3 linked regions of the Homo sapiens genome follow. The protein of the gene in region 3 purifies or fractionates together with the protein of the main gene of each other region. This does not show direct contact. Each region holds a gene or a part of one and is shown on either strand. Other genes may lie near its edges.

Region 1 (5,169 bases), on a different chromosome or scaffold from region 3:
GCCTGGCCTAAACAATGCTCTTAAATGCATTAAAATACAGGTTCAGAGATTTTTAGAATTTGTACATAAACCCAGTGAAAAGTGAAATCTGTCACAAAGCACTTTTTTGAACACCGATCAATTATACTTTCCTGAACATCTGCTTCACATCTCCAACTTTAGGGTAGCTGTGGGTGGCTGGCACAGACTAAAAGGAAGTTGACAAACACTGATGGTTTGGGAACCTTATTTTTTAAAGTTTTTCTCCTTTTTAAACTTGTATTCTTTATGAGAACTTGTTCTCTCATGCTCACTCCAATGTTTGCAGTTTTCTAAGTCCCCTTCTTCTTGGCTCATTACCCAGTCCTCCACTTTTACTCTCCATCCTATTTAATATTATTTAACTATAGTTCAATAGTATTTTTGTATCACTCATTCAGACTAGCTAAAATAAAGCTATGTATCTTAGTTAAAAGCCAAAATTTGATGATCTGGGAAAAAAAAGCCTGTAGTGACACACATTGGAGATGCTTTGTAATTAGTATATTAAGGAGACAATACATTTCAAGAATTGCTTAAATTCTGATACCCAGATTTAAGCATGTGAACATATGAGACTTTTAAACATACAATTAAAGCTATTCATCATAATTTGCTATACTACCAACATAACTTTGGAGCGAAAGTCAAATGGTTTAAAGTAATCCTGTAACATACCTAAAGAACACCTTCCTATATTACGCATGCAAATTCTCCACGTAAAGGTCTTTTCACTTTAATTTCTGTTACCCAGCTCTGAAGTCACTACTTGGGCTTATCATGGTCCACAGACAAGGAGGGGAGCAAATGACCAGGACTGGTCAAGATTATATATATATATGTATATATATATGAATGGCACAGCAGAAGGAAACACAATTCTGGAAGTGCAAGCCTTCAAGAAGCAGCATATTATGATAAACCCCTCCTACAGAAAGGTATCATTTTTATCACTGATACCACAGGATAAATTATATATTACGCCATCTTCAAGTAACAGCTGAGGCAACAGAATAAATGCAGAGGCATTACAATGAATCCCACTTAATATAAAGAACTATACAGACCAACACTTCTCTACAAAATTTTTTTTTCCTCATTGCCAGTTAAATACAGAGTTTTACTTTCATAGCTTAACAATGAAGGGTCATACACTGAAGCCAATACATATACCTAGCATTTCAGTCTAAGCTTGTCCACGTACATAGCTGAAGTCAATTACAAGGTTTGGCCTAGAAATGCTAGGGGAACTTCTTTGTAGTTTTTACAGGTATTAAACTTCATCTTGCACACTGAAGTCATCATACATACAGGGCAAAATCAGAGCTTTTATATTTGCGTTTATTCTTCATTTAACTTTTTAAAACACTACTATAGTTTATTAAAACAAAAACAAGAGCAAGTAGTGAGCATATTATGATTACAGTCCTTCACTCATTCACTACTGCACATTAAATGCCAGCAGTGAGTGTTATTCACTGGCCCATTAAGAGGTCTGACACTGAACACCACCTCTGGGATGATGTTCATCATCCTCATATGCTTCTCCATTGTAGTGGCGCCGTCTTTCCTGATTTGGATCAAAGTCCACCAGTTCTACTTGGTCCATCTCATCAGTCTCTTCCACTTCCTTCCTCTCGGGTAGGAGTTTTTCCAGCAAAGACAGTTTATCAGGAGAGAGAAAGCCATTCTCAGGAAAGTTTACCTTCAAAAGAAACTTTCACTGTTCAATCTGATTTCATCATTAGCTCCCTTAGAGTATCATGGACCCATTTTCCCCAGAAAAACACATGTAAACACGTAATATTTAGGTGAATCTGCCAATCTCAGGTTAGAACAGGCTCTAAAAAGGCACAGTGCATAGCACACTCTGAACTAGAGTTCAAGGATTATGACCAGAAGTCAGGCTTTATTAAAAATGATTGTATTAAATAAAACTGCACTTTAACAACCATTGTTCTATCCAGCAAACTGACTTTTTAATACCAAAACCCATCCTGCAACAGCCTAACCCTTCTTACGACATATTTAAACAAAGCTATTCTTACTCTCAAAAGGGTAGTTCTTCCTTACCAAAGATGTTTTTAGGCCAGGCGCGGTGGCTCATACAATTGGGATTACAAATCCCAACACTTTGGGAAGCTGAGATGGGCAGATCACCTGAGGTCAAGAGTTTGAGACCAGCCTGGCCAATATGGTGAAACCCCATCTCTACTAAAAAGCCCAGCGTGGTGGCGGGCACCTGTATTCCCAGCTACTCAGGAGGCTGAGGCAGGAGAACTGCTTGAACCCAGGAGGTGGAGGTTACAGTGATCCAGGATCGCACCACTGCACTCCACCTTGGGTGACAGAACAAGACTCCCGTCTCAAAAAGGAAAAAAAAAAAAAAAAGTTTTAATTAATATTTTTATGGTGACAGGCCAATTTAAGACTCAGGAAAATGACTGGATTGCTTTATACCTATTAACAAATCAAGCATTACACTATTTTGCCAAGAAATCTGCAATTATTATAAAGCACCTCTCAACTTTAAGATGCCAGTTACAACCTTTCATTAGTAAAATACCCACTTGTCCCACACACCCTTCCCACAACCTATCTTTAAATATCCAATTAATGATGCAAAAAACCCCATCCTCAACTTGTTAACAAAGAATGCTCAACATGACAGAAGTAGTTATTAGGTAAATTTTCTTTTTTCTTTTTTTGAGACAGGGTCTCATTCTGTCACCCAGGTTGAAGTACAGTGACACGATCTTGATTCACTGCAGCCTTGACCACCTAGGCTCAAGCAATCCTCCCACCTCAGCCTCCCGAGTAGCTGGGACTACAGGTGTGTGCCACCATGCCTGGCTAATTTTTGTACTTTTTGTAGAGATGGGGTTTTGCCATGTTGCCCAGGCTGGCCTTTAACTCCTGAGCTCAAGCAATCCACCTGTCTTGGCCTCCCAAAGCACTGGGATTATAGGTGTGTGCCAGTGGCACGTGGCCAGATCCATATATTTCTTGCTGTGGAAAAATGTAAGTTTCAGGTTCTGAGGCATTCAGAAATTTTAATTTTTTTTTTTTTTTGTTTTTTTAAAGAGACAGGGTTTCACTATGTTGCCCAGGCTGTTCTCAAAACTCCAGGGCTCAAGGGATCCTCCTGCCTCAGCCTCTCAAAATGCGGGGATTACAGGCATGAGCTACTTGCACCTGGCTGAAATTTTACTTTTTTATCAGATTTTAGTAAGCCAATTGTTCTCAAGTATTCTTAAAGTACATTACAGCTTACCTTAAATTCGATGATTAGGCGACCCTTTTCATATGGTCTACGATAAATTGGCATGCCTTCATTTAGTACACACTTGATATCTCCATGCTTGACAATCTGACCTAAAAACATTGAAGCCAAGTTCTTCCTTAAGTATGGTCACATTTTTATGAGGCAGGGAATATAAAGAACAGAGCACTGTCCTAGCTCATTGGCAGGAGTAAAACTTACGTGGCAAAGCAATCCTGTTACCTTTCACTTATGGGTTTTCCAAGGGCTGACAAGAGAGCCAAGACCTTATAACTTCATCTAAGCCCAGAGAAGGATATGTAACCGAGAAAGAAAAACAATGGGTTTCCCTCAGTGCCTATACTACACTTTGTTAACAGGAGACAAGGAAAATACTAGAATAGAAAAGAGAAGTTTAAGCTTGCCTAGTTCCCATACCTGGATGAGAGGTGATGACGATGGTTCGGTTGTCAAGAGTAGATATTGGCTTCTGGAAGCCACACAGTGCTTCAACGAGCTGTATGTCCATACACATGAAAAGGTCTTCTCCTCGTCTGCATAAAATATGACACATATTTATATTTTTCAAATCACGAATCAGTAGATGTACCAAAGCAGGCTGTTTTTTTGTTTAATAAAAGCAAAGGGTCTTTTACAAAGACACCCTTTTCTTCCCCCATTGTAAAAATCAAGCAGAGCAGAGATCTGGGAAGAGCAAACATGTGCAACCTGCCAGCCCCGTTTCCTAGTTAAGGATTCAAAGTCATTCCACACACTCTAGGCAGCCTTTACCATTTACCATCAGTGAACTGTTTCATTACCTAGTTTTAAATCTGGTTTCTCAGAGGGGAAAAAAAAAAAACAACTCACAAGAGTGAGGGTTAGGCCAGGCACTGTGGTTCGCATCTGTAATTCCAGCAGTTTGGGAGGCTGAGGAGGGTGGATCACCTAAGGTCTGAAGTTCAAGACCAGCCTGGCCAACATGGTGAAACCCCATCTCTACTAAAAATACAAAAAATCAGCCAGGCATGGTGGCGCGCACCTGTAGTTCCAGCTACTCGGGAGGCTGAGGCAGGAGAATCACTTGAATCTGGAGGCAGAGATTGCAGTGAGTTGAGATCGTGCCACTGCACTCTAGCCTGGGCAGGGTCCTAGATAATTTAGGCTCTATGAAATTAAACAATGAGGATATGTCCAATTTAAAGGGACTCTAACAATTTCCTCATTGATGAACCTGAAATAATATTTCCTGGCATATTGTGAGTGAACACAGCCTTTCATATTTAACGTTAACAGCCCACTTCCTCCTTCTCATGCTTAGACTTTCCTTTTCCAACCCACATTAATAAAACATCTTTAGGCTGGGCGCGGTGGCTCATGCCTGTAATCCCAGCACTTTGGGAGGCCGAGGCAGGTGGATTGCCTAAGGTCAGGAGTTCGATACCAGCCTGGCCAACATGGTGAAACCCGTCTCTACTAAAAATACAAAAATCAGCTGGGCGTGGTGGTGGGCGCCTGTAATCCCAGCTACTCGGGAGGCTGAGGTGAGAGAATTGCTTGAACCTGGGAGTTGGAGGTTGCAGTGAGCCAAGATCTCACCATCGCAATCCAGCCTGGGCCTGTTGAGCGAAACTGCATCTCAAAAAAAATAAATAAATAAATAAAACATCTTTAATACCCTTCTCAAATGACAGCATCAAAAGCCTGAGCTTGACAACATTTCCCATTATCTTCAGACATTTGTAAAATATTAGTCTTTTTTTTTGAGACCAAGTTTTGCTCTTTTTGCCCAGGCTGGAGTGCAATGGCGCCATCTCAACTCACCGCGACCTCTGCCTCCTGTGTTCAAGTGATTCTCCTGCCTCAGGGCCTGCCACCATGCCTGGCTA
Region 2 (7,034 bases), on a different chromosome or scaffold from region 3:
GTTCTAGTTCTTTGAATGTCTTCCTTTTTTTTTTTTTTTTGAAACAGCGTCTTGCTGCTCTGTCACCCAGGCTGGAGTGCAGTGGCACAATCTCGGCTCACTGCAATCTCCGCCTCCCTGGCCCAAGCCATCCTCCCACCTCAGCCTCCCTAATAGCTGATACTACAAGTGTGCACTGCCACGCCCAGCTAATTTTTGTATTTTTTGTAGAGACGGGATTTCACCATATTACCCAGGTCTCGAATTCCTGATCCCTTTGATGAGAGATCTGACACATCCCTGTGGTGCTCCCTCTGGGCCAGGCACTGCTCCAAGGGTTTCATATACTTTCATTCATCTGTGCAACAGCCCTGTAGGTAGGCCCTGCAGTCACACCATCTGACAGAGGAGGAAACAGGAGTAGAAGAACTGAGTGGTCCAGGGCTTCAAGGCTCAGAGGGCTCCGGTTGCCCCCAGCCCTCGTTCCGTCCCCTGCTCCACCCAGTGCTGCTTGCCATGTCGGCATCAGGCCTGATCTGAAAGCTTCCGGAGCATCTTACAGACGTCCACCTTGCCACCATTCAGGACTGATAAGTTCTCTTGGATTTGCGTTGGACCTTTTTTTTTTTTTTAAGATGGAGTTTCACTGTTGTTGCCCAGGCTAGAGTACAATGGCATGACCTCCACCTCCTGGGTTCAAGGGATTCTCCTGCCTCAGCCTCCCAAGTAGCTGGGATTACAGGCGCCTGTCACCACGTGGTGCCCAGCTAATTTTTATATTTTTAGTAGAGGCAGGGTTTCACCATGTTGGCCAGGCTGGTCTCGAACTCTTGACCTCAGGTGATCCCGCCTTGGTTTCCCAAAGTGCTGGGATTACAGGCATGAGCCACCACACCCGGCCCAGGATTTCTTTATATATTCTGGATATCATCCCTTATGAAGTATATAGTTTGCAGATATTTGCTCCCATTGTTTGGGTTGTCTTTTCACTTGATATAGTGTCCTTTGATGCACAAACATTTTAAATTTTGATGCAGTGCAATTTATTGTTTCTTTATTGCCTATGTTTTTGTCATCAGGTTTAAGAAACCACCTCATCCATAGTTATGAGGATTTTCACCTATGTTTTCTTCTAAGAGTTCTGTAGTTTTAGCTGTTAAATTTAGGTCTTTGATCCATTTTGAGTTAATTTTTGTATATGTTATTAGGTGAGGGTCCACTTTATTCTTTTGCATGTGGATTTCCAGTTTTCCCAGCACCATTTGTTTAAAAGACTGCTTTTTCTCCACTGAATGGTCTTGGCACTTTTGTCCAAAATCAATTGGCAATATATGTAAGGGTTTATTTCTGAGCTCTCTCTCCTGTTCCATTGGTGTATATGTGCCAGTACCACACTGTTCTGATTATTATAGCTTTGTGATAAGTTTTAAACTCAGGAAGTGGTAGTTATTCACCATTTGCTCCTCTTTTTCAAGTTTGTTTTGTTTCTGGATCCTTTGCAATTTCATATGAATTTTAGGATCGGCTTGTCCAATTCTGCATAAAAGACAGTTTGAATTTTGATATGGATTGCATAGAATGTGTAGATCTGTTTGGGGCACATTGTCATCTTTACAATATTAAGCCTTCTGGCTGGGTGTGGTGGCTGACGCCTGTAATCCCAGTACTTTGGGAGGCTGAGGCGGGCATATCACTTGAGGTCAGGAGTTCAAGACCAGCCTGGCCAACGTGGTGAAACCCCGTCTCTACTAAAAATAAAAAACAAATTAGTCGGAGGTGGTGCACACCTGTAATCCCAGCTACACGAGAGGGTGAGGCAGGAGAATCGCTTGAACCTGGGAGGAGGAGGTTGCAGTGAGCTGAGATCATGCCACTGCACTCCAGCCTGGGTAACAGAGGGAGACTCCATCTTAAACAACAACAATAACAGAAGAAAAAAACAGTATTAAGTCTTCCAATTCATGAATGAAGGATCTGTCCATTTATTTACGTCTTTAATTTCTTTCAACAGTATTTTGTACTGTTCAAGTCTTGCACATTCTTGGTTAAATAAGTATTATTTTTGATGCTTCTCTAAGGAATTGTTTTTCTTTTCCTTTTTTTTTTGAGACAGAGTCTTGCTCTGTCACCCAGGCTGGAGTGCAATGGCACAATCTTGGCTCACTGCAACCTCTGCCTCCCGGGTTCAAGCAATTCTTCTGCTCAGCCTCCCAAGTAGCTGGGATCACAGGTGCCTGCCACCACACCCAGCTAATTTTTTTTTTTGAGATGGAGTCTTGCTCTGTTGCCCAGGCTGGAGTGAAGTGGCCCAATCTTGGCTCACTGCAAGCTCCACCTCCCGGGTTCACACCATTCTTCTGCCTCAGCCTCCTGAGTCGCTGGGAATACAGGTGCCTGCCACCACGCCCAGCTAATTTTTTGTATTTTTAGTAGAGATGGGGTTTCACCATGTAGCCAGGATGGTCTCGAACTCTTGACCTCAGGTGATCTGCCTGCCTCGGCCTCCCAAAGTGCTGGGATTACAGATGTGAGCCACTGTGCCCGGCTGGAGTTGTTTTCCTTAGTTACATTTTCAGGCTGTTTGTTGCTAGTATATAGAAATACAAGCTGGGCACCGTGGCTCACGCCTGTAATCCCAGCACTTTGGGAGGCCAAGGCGGGTGGATCACCTGTGGTCAGGAGTTCGAGACCAGCCTGGCCAACATGGTGAAATCCAGCCTCTATTAAAAATACAAAAATTAGTCTGGCATGGTGGCAGGTGCCTGTAATCCCATCTACTCAGGAGGCTGAGGCAAGAGAATTGCTTGAACCTGGGAGGCGGAGGTTGCAGTGAGCTGAGATCGCGCCATTGCACTCCAGCTTGGGGAACAAGAGTGAGACTTCATCTCAAAAAAAAAAAAAAAGAAATACAGTGGATTTTTTTATGTTAATCCTGTATTGATTGCTGAATTGGTTTATTAGTGCTAATAGGATTTTTTATGCACTATTTAGGATTTTCGATATATACAATCATATATATTCAATATATACAATTAATATATATGTGAATAGAGATAATTGTAGTCTTTGTTTCTAGTTTGCATGGCATTTATTTCTTTTTCTTGCTTAACTGCCTTAGCTAGAACTTCAAGTACAATGTTGAATAAAAGTGACTAGAGCGGGCCGGGGGTGGTGGCTCACACCTGTGTTCCCAGCACTTTGGGAGGTGGAAGTGGGCAGATCACTTGAGATCAGCAGTTTGAGACCAGCCTGGCCAACACGGCGAAACCCCATCTCTACTAAAAATACAAAAATTAGCTGGGTGAGGTGATGTGCACCTGTAGTCCCAGCTACTTGAGAGGGTGAGACATGAGAATTGCTTGAACCTGGGGGGCGGAGGTTGCAGTGAGCCAAGATCATGCCACTCCACTCCAGCCTGGACGACAGAGCAAGAACCCTGTCTTTAAAAAAAAAAAAAAAAAAAGTGGCTAGAACAAACATCTTTATCTTGTTCCTGATCTTAGGTGGAAAACTTTTTTGTTCCTGATATTAGGTGGAAAACTTTTAGTCTTTCACTGTTGAATATGATGTTACTTGTAGGTTTTCTGTAGATTCCCTTTATCGAGTTGAGGAAATTCTCTTATATTCATAGTGTGTTGAGTGTTTTTTATCATGAAAGGGTGTTGATTTTTTTTTTAAAGATAGGGTCTTGTTCTGTCACCCAGGCTGGAGGGCAGTGGCATGATCATGGCTCACTGCAACCTCGAATTCCTGGGCTCAGGGGATCCTCCTACTTCATCCTCCTGAGTAGGTGAGACTACAGGCATGAGCCACCATGCCCAGCTAATTTTTTAATTTTTCTGTAGAGGTAGGGTCCTGCTTTGCTGCCCAGGCTGGTCTTAAACTCCAGGGCTCAAGCAATCCTGCCTCAGCCTCCCAAAGTGCTGAGATTACAGGGGTGAGTCACTGCACTGCACCCAGCTGTGTGGGATTTTTCAAATGCTTTTTTCCTTTAGATGATCATGTGTGGTTTTTTTCCTTTCATTTTGTTAATGTGGTATATTGATTTTCGTATGTTGAACCATCCTTGAATTCCTCAGATAAAGCACGCATATTCATGGCGTATTATCTCTTTATTATTATTATTTTTGTAGAGATGAGATTTCACTCTGTTGCCCAAGCTGGTCTCAAACTCCTGGGCTAAAGTGATCCTCCTGCCTCAGCCTCCGAAAGCGCTGGGATTATAGGCATGAGCCACTTGGCCCTATCTTTTTTCTTTTTCTTTTTTTTTTTTTTTGAGACAGAGTCTCACTCTGTCGCCGGGCTGGAGTGAGTGGCGCGATCTCGGCTCACTGCAACCTCCATCTCCCGGGTTCAAGCAATTCTCCTGCCTCAGCCTCCTGAGTAGCTGGGACTACAGGTGCCCGCCACTATGCCCAGCTAATTTTTTGTGTTTTTAGTTGAGACGGTGTTTTGCCATGTTGGACAGGCTGGTCTTGCACTCCTGACCTCGTGATTCACCCACCTTGGCCTCCCGAAGTGCTGGGATTACAGGCGTGAGCCACCGCAGCGAGCCTTATCTTTTTAACAGTTAAAAGTTTAAGGCCTTATCATGTAATAACATTGCTGGATTTGATTTGCTGCTGTTTTGTTGAGAATATTTGCATCTGTATTGATAAGGGATATTGGTCTGTAGTTTTCTTTTCTTGGCATGTCTTTGTATAGCTTTGATGCCAGCATAATATTGGCCTCATAGAATGAGTTAGGAAGTATTCTTTATATTATGGGAAGAGGTAAAAAGGGATTGGTGTTAATTCTTCTTCAAATGTTTGATAGAATTCAACAGTGAAGTGATATATACAATCATATATAGAGAGAGAGAGAGAGAGAGAGAGATGGACTTTTCTTTTGTTGGAAGTTTATTGACTATTGATTCAATTTCCTTATTGAAATTGACTTTTCTTTTTGGAAGCTAAAACGTATAACTGTAGTGAAAGTTTCTGAACTTTTCTTTCATTGGAAGTTTTTTGACTACTGATTCTTTATTTGTTATAGGTCTATTCAGATTTTCTGTTTCTTCTTGAGTCAGTTTGGTCTCGCTCTGTCGCCCAGGCTGGAGTGCAGTGGTGCCATCTTGGCTCACTGCAACTTCTACCTCCCGAGTTCAAGTGATTCTCCCACCTCAGCCTCCCCAGTATCTCGGACTACAGGCGCACGCCAGCATACCTGGCTAATTTTTGTATTTTTAGTAGGAACAGCATTTCACCATGTTGGCCAGGCTGGTCTCGAACTCCTGACCTCAGGTGATCCACCCGCCTCGGCCTCACAAAGTGCTGGGACTACAGACATAAGCCACCGCGTCCAGCCTTGAGTCAGTTTAGATAGTTTGCATGCATGTTTCTAGGAATTTGTCCATTTTGTTTATGTTATCTAATCTGTTACCATACAATTGTTCATAGTATCCTTTTATAGCCCTAGTTATTTCTGTAAGATCAGTAGTAATAGCTCCACTTTCTCTCTTGGTTTTAGCAATTTGAGTCATCTCTTTTCTTCCTCTTTTTTTTTTTTTGAGATGGAGTCTCACTGTGTCACCCAGGCTGGAGTGCAGTGGCATGATCTTGGCTCACTGCAACCCCTGCCTCCCAGGTTCAAGCAATTCTGCCTTAGCCTCCTGAGTAGCTGGGATTACAGGTGTGAGCCACCACACCCAGCTAGTTTTGTTTTGTTTTTTTGTTTTTGAGACGGAGTCTGTTTCTGTCTCCCAGGCTGGAGTGCAGTGGTGCAATCTCACTCATTGCAACCTCCGACTCCCAGATTCCAGCAATTCTCCTGCCTCAGCCTCCTGAGTAGCTGGAACTATAGGCGTGCACCACCACGCCTGGCTGATTTTTATATTTTTAGTAGAGATGGGATTTCACCATGTTGGCCAGGCTGGTCTTGGACTCCCTACCTGAGGTGATCCGCCCACCTTGGCCTCCCAAAGTGCTGGGATTATAGGCATGAGCCACCATGCCCAGCCAGTTTTTGTATTTTTAGTAGAGATGGGGTTTCTCCCTGTCGGCCAGGCTGGTCTTGAAATCCTGACCTCAGGTTATCCACCAGCCTTGGCCTCCCAAAGTGCTAGGATTACAGGCATGAGCCACCACGCATGGCCTGTCTTTTCTTCTTGGTCATTTTCGCTAAAGGTTTGTCAATTTTGTTGATCTTTTTTGTTGCTGATCTCTATTGTTTTCCCATTCTGTTTCATTTATTTCCATTTTAACCTTTGTTTCCTTTTTTCTGCTGGTTTGGGTTTAATTTGCTCTTTTTTTCCCCTAATTTTTCAAGGTATACAGTTAAGTTATTGATTTGAGATCTCTTTTTTCTTTTCTTTTTTTTTTTTTTTTTTTTTTTTTGGTTGCTGTTGAGATGGAGTCTCCCTCTGTCACCCAGACTGGAGTGCAGTGGCATGATCTCAGCTCACTGCAGCCTCCGCCGCCCAGGCGATTCTCCTGCCTCAGCCTCCTGAGTAGACGTTTCCCGGCCAAGGTGTTTCTTTTTGAATGTAAGCATTTACAGCTACAGATTTCCCTCTAAACACTGCTTTCACTGCATTCCATAAGATTGTTTTTTGTTGTTGTTTTGTTGTTTGAGACACAGTCTCACTCTGTTGCCGTTTGGAGAGCAGCGATGCGATCATAGCTCTGTAGCCTTGAGCTCCTGGACTCAATCAGTCCTCCTGCCTCAGCCTCCCAAGTAGCTGGGACTACAGGTGTACACCACTGCACCTAACTAATTTCTTTTATAAGTTTTTGCAGAGGCCAGGCACAGTGGCTCACACCTGTAATCCCAGCACTTTGGGAGGCCAAGGTGGGTGGATCACCTAAGGTCAGGAGTTCGAGACCAGCCTGGCCGACAGGGAGAAACCCCATCTCTACTAAAAATACAAAAATTAGCTGGGCGTGGTGGCAGGTGCCTGTAATCCCAGCTACTCAGGAGGCTGAGGCAGGAGAATCGCTTGAACCTGGGAGGCAGAGGTTGCAGTGAGCCAGGATCACACCATTGCACTCCAGCCTGGGTAACAAAAGCAAAACTCC
Region 3 (7,034 bases):
GCTACTCGGGAGGCTGAGGCAGGAGAATCGCTTGAACCCGGGAGGCGGAGGTTGTGGTGAGCCAAGATCGCACCATTGCACTCCAGCCTGGGCAATAAGAGCAAAACTCTGTCTCAAGGAAAAAAAAAAAAAAGAAAAAAAGAAACACAGTCATTAAGGCTAGCACCTGAGAGGAGGTGCCACCTGACCAAAGGATTAAAACACCAAGACCTCCAAAAATGCTTGTTAACTGGATGAGAAATGAAGTCACTTCTGCCACGAAGTACCAGGAATGCCTGGAGCCCAGCAATGAATTCAGTAGAGCTAAAGTTCTGGGTAGTACTAGGCAGGTAAGCAGGGAGGACCAGGAAGAAAGATGAACTCATATTAACTGAATACCTGCCCCATGCCAGATGCAAAGGGTGACCTCGTTTAATTTTCCTGACCACAGCCCAGGTGGCAGGAAACATTACCCTCACTTTACAAAGGCAGAAAGGAGGCCAGACACGGTGGCTCACGCCTGTAATCCCAGCACTTTGGGAGGCCAAGGCGGAAGGATCATCTGAGGTTAGGAGTTTAAGACCAGCCTGGCCGACATGGCGAAGCCTTGTCTCTACTGAAAATACAAAAAATTAGCAGGGCGTGGTGGCGTGTGCCTGTAATCCCAGTTACTTGGGAGGCTGAGACAGGAGAATCGCTTGAACTCGGGAGGTGGAGGTTGCAGTGAGCCGAGATGGCACCATTGCACCCCAGCCAGCCTGGGCAACAGAGCAAGACTATGTCTCAAAAACAAAAACAAAAACAAAACAAAAAACAAAAAAACAAAGGCAGAAAGAGAAAGGAGCTGGAGTTTGGATACCAGCAAAGCCTAGTGTAGAGGCAACAGGGAAGGCCCCCACGAGCCACAGCATGGAGGACATACCTTGCAGCCCATCCACAGAATATCCTGGTTTGTCTCTAAACATGAAAGAGACCTGAATAGGCCCCTCGCACTGCAGGGTTTGGGTCCTGGGGCAGTCAAACTGGCATCCAGGCTTGGATCTAGAGGCTGGACTGCTAGCCACCCACTGGCTTTGTCATCAGCAGCCTGAGGAGTTTGGGCTCTGGCCCTTCTCTTTCTCCTTTTGGGGAGAAAATGTTGCTCAGGAAGGGCTAGTAGGGGTGGGGGGTAGGGGATAGCTCAGCCATAGATAAGTTTAAGCTCCAACAATGCCCTGGCCTGAGGAGATTGTGAACCTTGCAAACTCATCGCTGAGCCTATGGGAAAATCCCTCCATATCTTTGAGCCTCCACAAAAAGGCTGAGTAAAGCTCCCTAACACCAGAGGATCCCAGGAGCTGAGGCAAGATTCTGTAACCTAGTGGTCTAAGGGCCCAAGTGAAGTTGGAGCAGGCTGTGGAACCCAACTGACTTAGGTTCCAATCTAGCTCCACCAATTATTAGCCATGTGATGATGAACTGCTCTGAGCCACAGTTTTCCAATCTGTGAATGGGGATACCAAGCCTCCCAATAATAGGGATGCTGGGCAGACTCAAATATTACAGGGCTTTGCCCAGTAAGAGACCACTTAATGAGTTCCCTTCCCTTCCCCAGGAGGGAAAAAAGCCTCTCTAGTAGGCTGATTAATAGCCACGCAAAGATATCAAACCCTAACCCCCCTGGAACTTGTAAATGTTACCTTATAATGAAAAAGGTAGGGCCAGGCGTCGTGGCTCATGCCTGCAATCCCAGCACTTTGGGAGGCTAAGGCAGGCAGATCGCTTTGAGCTCAAGAGTTCAAGACTAGCCTGGGCAACATGGTGAAATCTCATCTCTACAAAAAATACAGGCCAGGTACGGTGATTCACGCCTGTAATCGCGGCACTCTGGGAGGCCGAGGCGGGTGGATCACCTGAGGTCAGGAGTTCGAGACCAGCCTGGCCAACATGGTGAAACCCTATCTCTACTAAAAATACAAAAATTAGCTGGTCATGGTAGCAGGCGCCTGTAATCCCAACTACTCAGGAGGCTGAGGCAGGAGAATCGCTGGAACCTGGGAGGCGAAGGTTGCAGTGAGCCGAGATAGCACCACTGCACTCCAGCCTGGGTGACACAGCGAGACTCCATCTCAAAAACAAATAAATAAACACCAAAAATTAACCGGGCATGGTGGCTCGCACCTGTGGTCCCAGCTACTCAGGAGGCTGAGGCTGGAGGATCACTTGAGTCCAGGAAGTGGAGGGTGCAGTGAGCCAAGATTACGCCACTGCACTCCAGCCTGGGTGACAGAGGCCAGCACTGTCTGAAAAGAAAAGAAAAGCCCGGGCACAGTGGCTCATGCCTGTAATCCCAGCACTTTGGGAGGCCGAGGCGGGTGGATCAACTAAGGTCAGGAGTTTGAAACCAGCCTGGCCAACATGGCAAAACCCCATCTCTACTAAAAATACAAAAATTAGCCAGGTGTGGTGGTGGGCGCCTGCAATCCCAGCTACTCAGGAGGGTGAGGCAGGAGAATAGCTTGAACCCAGGAGGCGGAGGTTGCGGTGAGCCGAGACTGCGCCTGGGTGACAGAGTGAGATTCCACCTCAAAAAAAAAAAAAAAAAGAGAAGAGAAAAGAAAAAAAGTGTTTGCAGATGTAATTAACTTACATTATTAAATCTGGAGATGGGGGGTTATCTTAGAGTATCAGGTAGGACCTAAATGCAATCACAAGTGTCCTTATAAAAGAGAGACAGAGGGAAATTTGATACAGACAGAAAAGGAAACCACATATACAGAGAAGGCGATGGTGAAGATGGAGGCAGAGATTAGAATGATGCAGTCATAAACCAAGGAATGTTGGCAGCCACGAGAGGCTAGAGAAGGTCTAAATTCTCCCTGAGAGCTTCCAGAAGGAGTGTGGCCCTGCCAACACTTTGATTTGGATGCAGTGAAACTGATTGTGGACTTCTGGCCTCCAGAATTGTGACAGAATAAACTTCTCTCTCTCTTTTTTTTTTTTTTTTTTTTTTTGAGATGGAGTCTCGCTCTGTCACCCAGGCTGGAGTGCAGTGGCGCAATCTCAGCTTACTGCAACCCCCACCTCACTGCAACCTCCAATCCGTCTCCTGGGTTCAAGCAATTCTCTGCCTCAGCCTCCCGAGTAGCTGGGATTACAGGCACCCACCACCACACCCAGCTAATTTTTATATTTTTAGTAGAGATGGGGTTTTACTATCTTGGCCAGGCTGGTCTTGAACTCCTGACCTCGTGATCCACCCGCCTCGGCCTCCCAAAGTGCTGGGATTACAGGGGTGAGCCACCGCACCCGGCCAACTTCTGTTGTTTTAAACCACCCAGTCTGTGGTAACATTTGTCACAACAGCCACAGGAAACTAACACACCCCCCTTGGTAGCACTCCTTGGTGTCTGTTCCCTAGTGCCTCACAGGTGTGAGACAATATGGCATGGATCCCGCTCTGCAAGGTCCACCTGCCTACCATCCTCCAGGGTGGGAGGTTAGAATTAAGGCAGCAGGGGCCTGGAATCTCCCTTCTCACCCTGGGAAACTACTGACCCTGCCTATGGATGGATGAGCTGCCACTGAAGTGGGGGTGGGGTGGGGGGGCAAAAGATGGCAGCAGCAGTGGCAGTTCATGGACAGATGTCTTCCCAGAGCCTATGGTCAAAAGGTGTTTAGCATTCTGTGACTCACAGCTCTGTCCCAGCAGCCCTGGTGCCAAGACCACCCCCTCCAGCAAAGCACCCAGGAACACTAGCCTGGCTCCATGGACAAAACACAGGGGGCCAGGCGTGGTGGCTCACGCCTGTAATCCCAGCACTTTGGGAGGCCGAGGTGGGCGGATCACGAAGTCAGGAGATCGAGATCATCCTGGCTAACACAGTGAATCCCTGTCTCTACTAAAAATACAAAAATATTAGCCAGACGAGGTGGCAGGCACCTGTAGTTCCAGCTACTCGGGAGGCTGAGGCAGGAGAATGGTGTGAACCTGGGAGGTGGAGGTTGCAGTGAGCCAAGATCGCGCCACTACACTCCAGCCTGGGGGACAGAGTGAGACTCCATCTCAAAAAAAAACACACACAGGCAACCCATCCAACGAGGAACATAGACACACTACTCTCTAAGGACCAACACAAGCCCTCCAGGGCAGAAGGGGAGAAGAGCAAGGCCCCAACATTTGGCTAGGCCACTGAGGGCAGGGGGATTAAAAACCTCTAAGATTGGCAGGGTGCGGTGACTCACACCTGTAATCCCAGCACTTTGGGAGGCCAAGGCAGGCAGATCACCTGAGGTCAGGAGTTCAGGAGACCAGCTTTGCCAACATGGTGAAACCCCATCTCTACTAAATATACAAAAATTAGCCGGGTGTGGTGGCAGATGCCTGTAGCCCCAGCTACTTGGGAGGCTGAGGCAGGAGAATCACTTGAACCCGGAAGCCGGAGGTTGCAGCGACCTGAGATTGCGCCACTGCACTCCAGCCTGGGCAGCAGAGCAAGACTCCACCTTAAAAAAAAAACAAAAACAAAAACAAAAACCAAAAAACAAAAAAACCCAAGGTCCTGTTATTCAGTAATAGAAAGGAATGAAGCACTGATGTATGCTACAACATGGATAAGCCTTGAACATATTATGCTAAGTGAAAAAAGCCAAGTAACAAACAACTGCATATTCTATTATTCCATTTACATGAAACATCCAGAACAGACAAATCAATCAAGCCAGAAAGTAGATTAGTGGTTGCCAGAGGCTGGAAAGGGATGAGGAAATTGGGGGATCATAGCTAAAGAGTGCTGGATTTCTCTTTAAGGTGATGAAAATGTTCTAAAATGGACTGTAGTGATGTGATGGACGCACAAATCTGTGAATATACTAAAAGCCACTGAACTGTACACTTCAAAGAGGTGAATAGTATGGTACATGAATTACATCTCATTAAAGTTGTTAAAAGAAACACACCCAAGGGCTCAGCACCAGCCAAGGACGCTGAACACTGCTTGAAATGTCCTAGCACAATCCCCAAAGGCCAAGGGGTCCCACTTAAAACTTTCATGAAGGGTGAGGGGAGTGGGAGCAGGGAGGAGACTATAACTTGCTTCAGAGCAATGAGTCCAACCTCCCTCCTCAACACTACCCATTTCATGGAGGGAGAAACCAAGAACCAGAAAAGAGAACTGCCTGAAGACCACAGAAAAGCTTACTGCAGAAACAGGACTCAAATCCACGTTGCCTGGGCAGAGACCCCTTCCTGCTTCCCCACCAGCTAGCTACCCAATTCCAGTTGGGGTAAGAAGAGCCCAAGAAATCAGCAGGTTCCTAGATGCCAAATGAAGGGCCTTTGCTATCAAAGATAGGTTACTAGGAGTGGACAAAGGCTCCTAGGAAGAACCAAGATGACCCTGGGGCAAACTGCCCATTCTGGGCAAGAGGAAGAACCGGCCAAGGTCCAAGGTGTGCAAGGTCAGACACACCTGGGCATGGACAAACTTTTGCAAAATGGGCAGCTGAGGGGGCAAGTAGTTTGCCTAAAGCTATAAAGCAGGTAAGGAGGAGATGCTGAGGTCTGGAGGTGATGAGAGAATTGAGGGATGATGGCTCAAAGCTTGCCTTGCTCCAAAGCCCAAACTCCACACACAACTCTACCTCTCTACACCACTATCCAACAGGCCTCCTGACAGGAAATCCCATCGAGCTTGTTCATTACAACATGGCTGCCCACAAAAAATGGCTGTTCATCAACCCTGAGCCTCACACAAAACAGGCTGCTTGTCCTGCCCACCAAGCTTGGATGGCTGAGAGGGAACAGAGGAGCCAGGAAGAGAGGGGAGAAACCCAGTTCCTCCTCAAAAGACATCCACCATTCTTTGCCACCTCCAGGTCCAGAGAACTTTGGACTGAGTTCCCTAAAATCCCAAAGCTAAACAACACCTCACCAGCATTTTGCCTGGCCAGTGAGGAAACTGAGGCCCAGAGAGCATAGGTAGAACCTACCCTGGTTCATCCAGCAAAGCCTTGAAAGACCCAGAGTTGGAACCCAGGCACCAACTACCGTGCCACACCCAGCTTTTTCCACCACCTCAGTTCACATGCCCCTTCTCAAAGAGCTCTGTGGGGTCTCCAAACTCAGGATGCTTACAGGCCAACCTTTTCATAGAGCAGACTCTCAGCAAGGCAGCCATGCCTGGGAACCCCTGACATCACCACCCACCCAGCACCTGGACCCCAGAGTGCCAAAAAGACTCCTAAAGGAAGTAGGGATACAAGAGAATCAGGACAAAGAGGAAGCCCAAGTAGTCAGAACCCCAGAATCGCCATCTAGACTCCCCCTCAACGACGCCTCTCTTCCCAAGGGATCCAACTGACCTCCAGGCTACAACCACCCCTAGTGACAGTTTAGGACCAAGACTGGGGTGGCAGGAGGAATCTTCCCTCTTCTCATCCCCAAAAGCTCTCAAGTTGGACCAGGTGAGGCAGGGAGAAGAGGATCACCTTCTTTGTCCTAAGAAGTGTGGGGACAGAAAGCCTCTCCTGTCATTGGGAAGGGCAGGTTTCATGAACCCACAAAACTTGATTTTCATATTCTTTTTTTTTTATTAGTAAAGATGAGGTCTCGCTATGTTGCCAAGCAGGTCTTGAACTCCAGGGCTCAAGTGATCCTCCCGCCTCAGCCTCCCGAGTAGCTGGGACTACAGGCATGCGCCACTATGCCCGGCTTACTCTTATGTTCTTATGGGGACAAGTATAAGGGAGGGACTGCAAGGGGCATAAGGAAGTGTTTTTGAGTTACCATGGCAGCATAGGATGTTCTTTCTCTCTGTCCCTGGGACCAGGGATGTATCGCAAGGGAGGGGAGTAAGGAGGTGTTTTTGAATTATCATGGCTGCATAGGATGTTTTTCCTCTGTCCCTAGGACCAGTGATGTATGGCTCCCTGCTTCTAGAGGAGGAAAGAAACTACCCAACCAGAGAGAGAAGAAATAACTGGTCCTGACCCTTGAGTACAAATGGCTTATCGTGCCAGAATTAATGATGGGAGGAAGGGACCAAGAACAAGGAGCTCAAGACAAGGCTTGGGGC

What was found. The genes of interacting proteins can lie anywhere in the genome.
Region 1: the proteins of OTUD5 (region 3) and DNAJA1 purify together in Homo sapiens (affinity purification with mass spectrometry, with the first as the bait; 3 studies listed by BioGRID). This does not show direct contact.
Region 2: the proteins of OTUD5 (region 3) and ZGPAT purify together in Homo sapiens (affinity purification with mass spectrometry; 3 studies listed by BioGRID, with this or other methods). This does not show direct contact.

Annotation. Positions count from the first base shown.
Region 1 is NC_000009.12:33,035,239-33,040,407, reverse strand, and holds the end of DNAJA1 (dnaJ homolog subfamily A member 1), read right to left. Parts: intron 3,835-5,169; coding exon 3,719-3,834; intron 3,394-3,718; coding exon 3,293-3,393; intron 1,724-3,292; coding exon 1,505-1,723; 3' UTR 501-1,504; downstream 1-500.
Region 2 is NC_000020.11:63,711,005-63,718,038, forward strand, and holds part of ZGPAT (zinc finger CCCH-type with G patch domain-containing protein), read left to right. Parts: intron 1-7,034. UniProt on the Homo sapiens protein: Transcription repressor that specifically binds the 5'-GGAG[GA]A[GA]A-3' consensus sequence. Represses transcription by recruiting the chromatin multiprotein complex NuRD to target promoters.
Region 3 is NC_000023.11:48,947,589-48,954,622, forward strand, and holds part of OTUD5 (OTU domain-containing protein 5), read right to left. Parts: intron 1-7,034. UniProt on the Homo sapiens protein: Deubiquitinating enzyme that functions as a negative regulator of the innate immune system. Has peptidase activity towards 'Lys-48'- and 'Lys-63'-linked polyubiquitin chains. Can also cleave 'Lys-11'-linked ubiquitin chains (in vitro).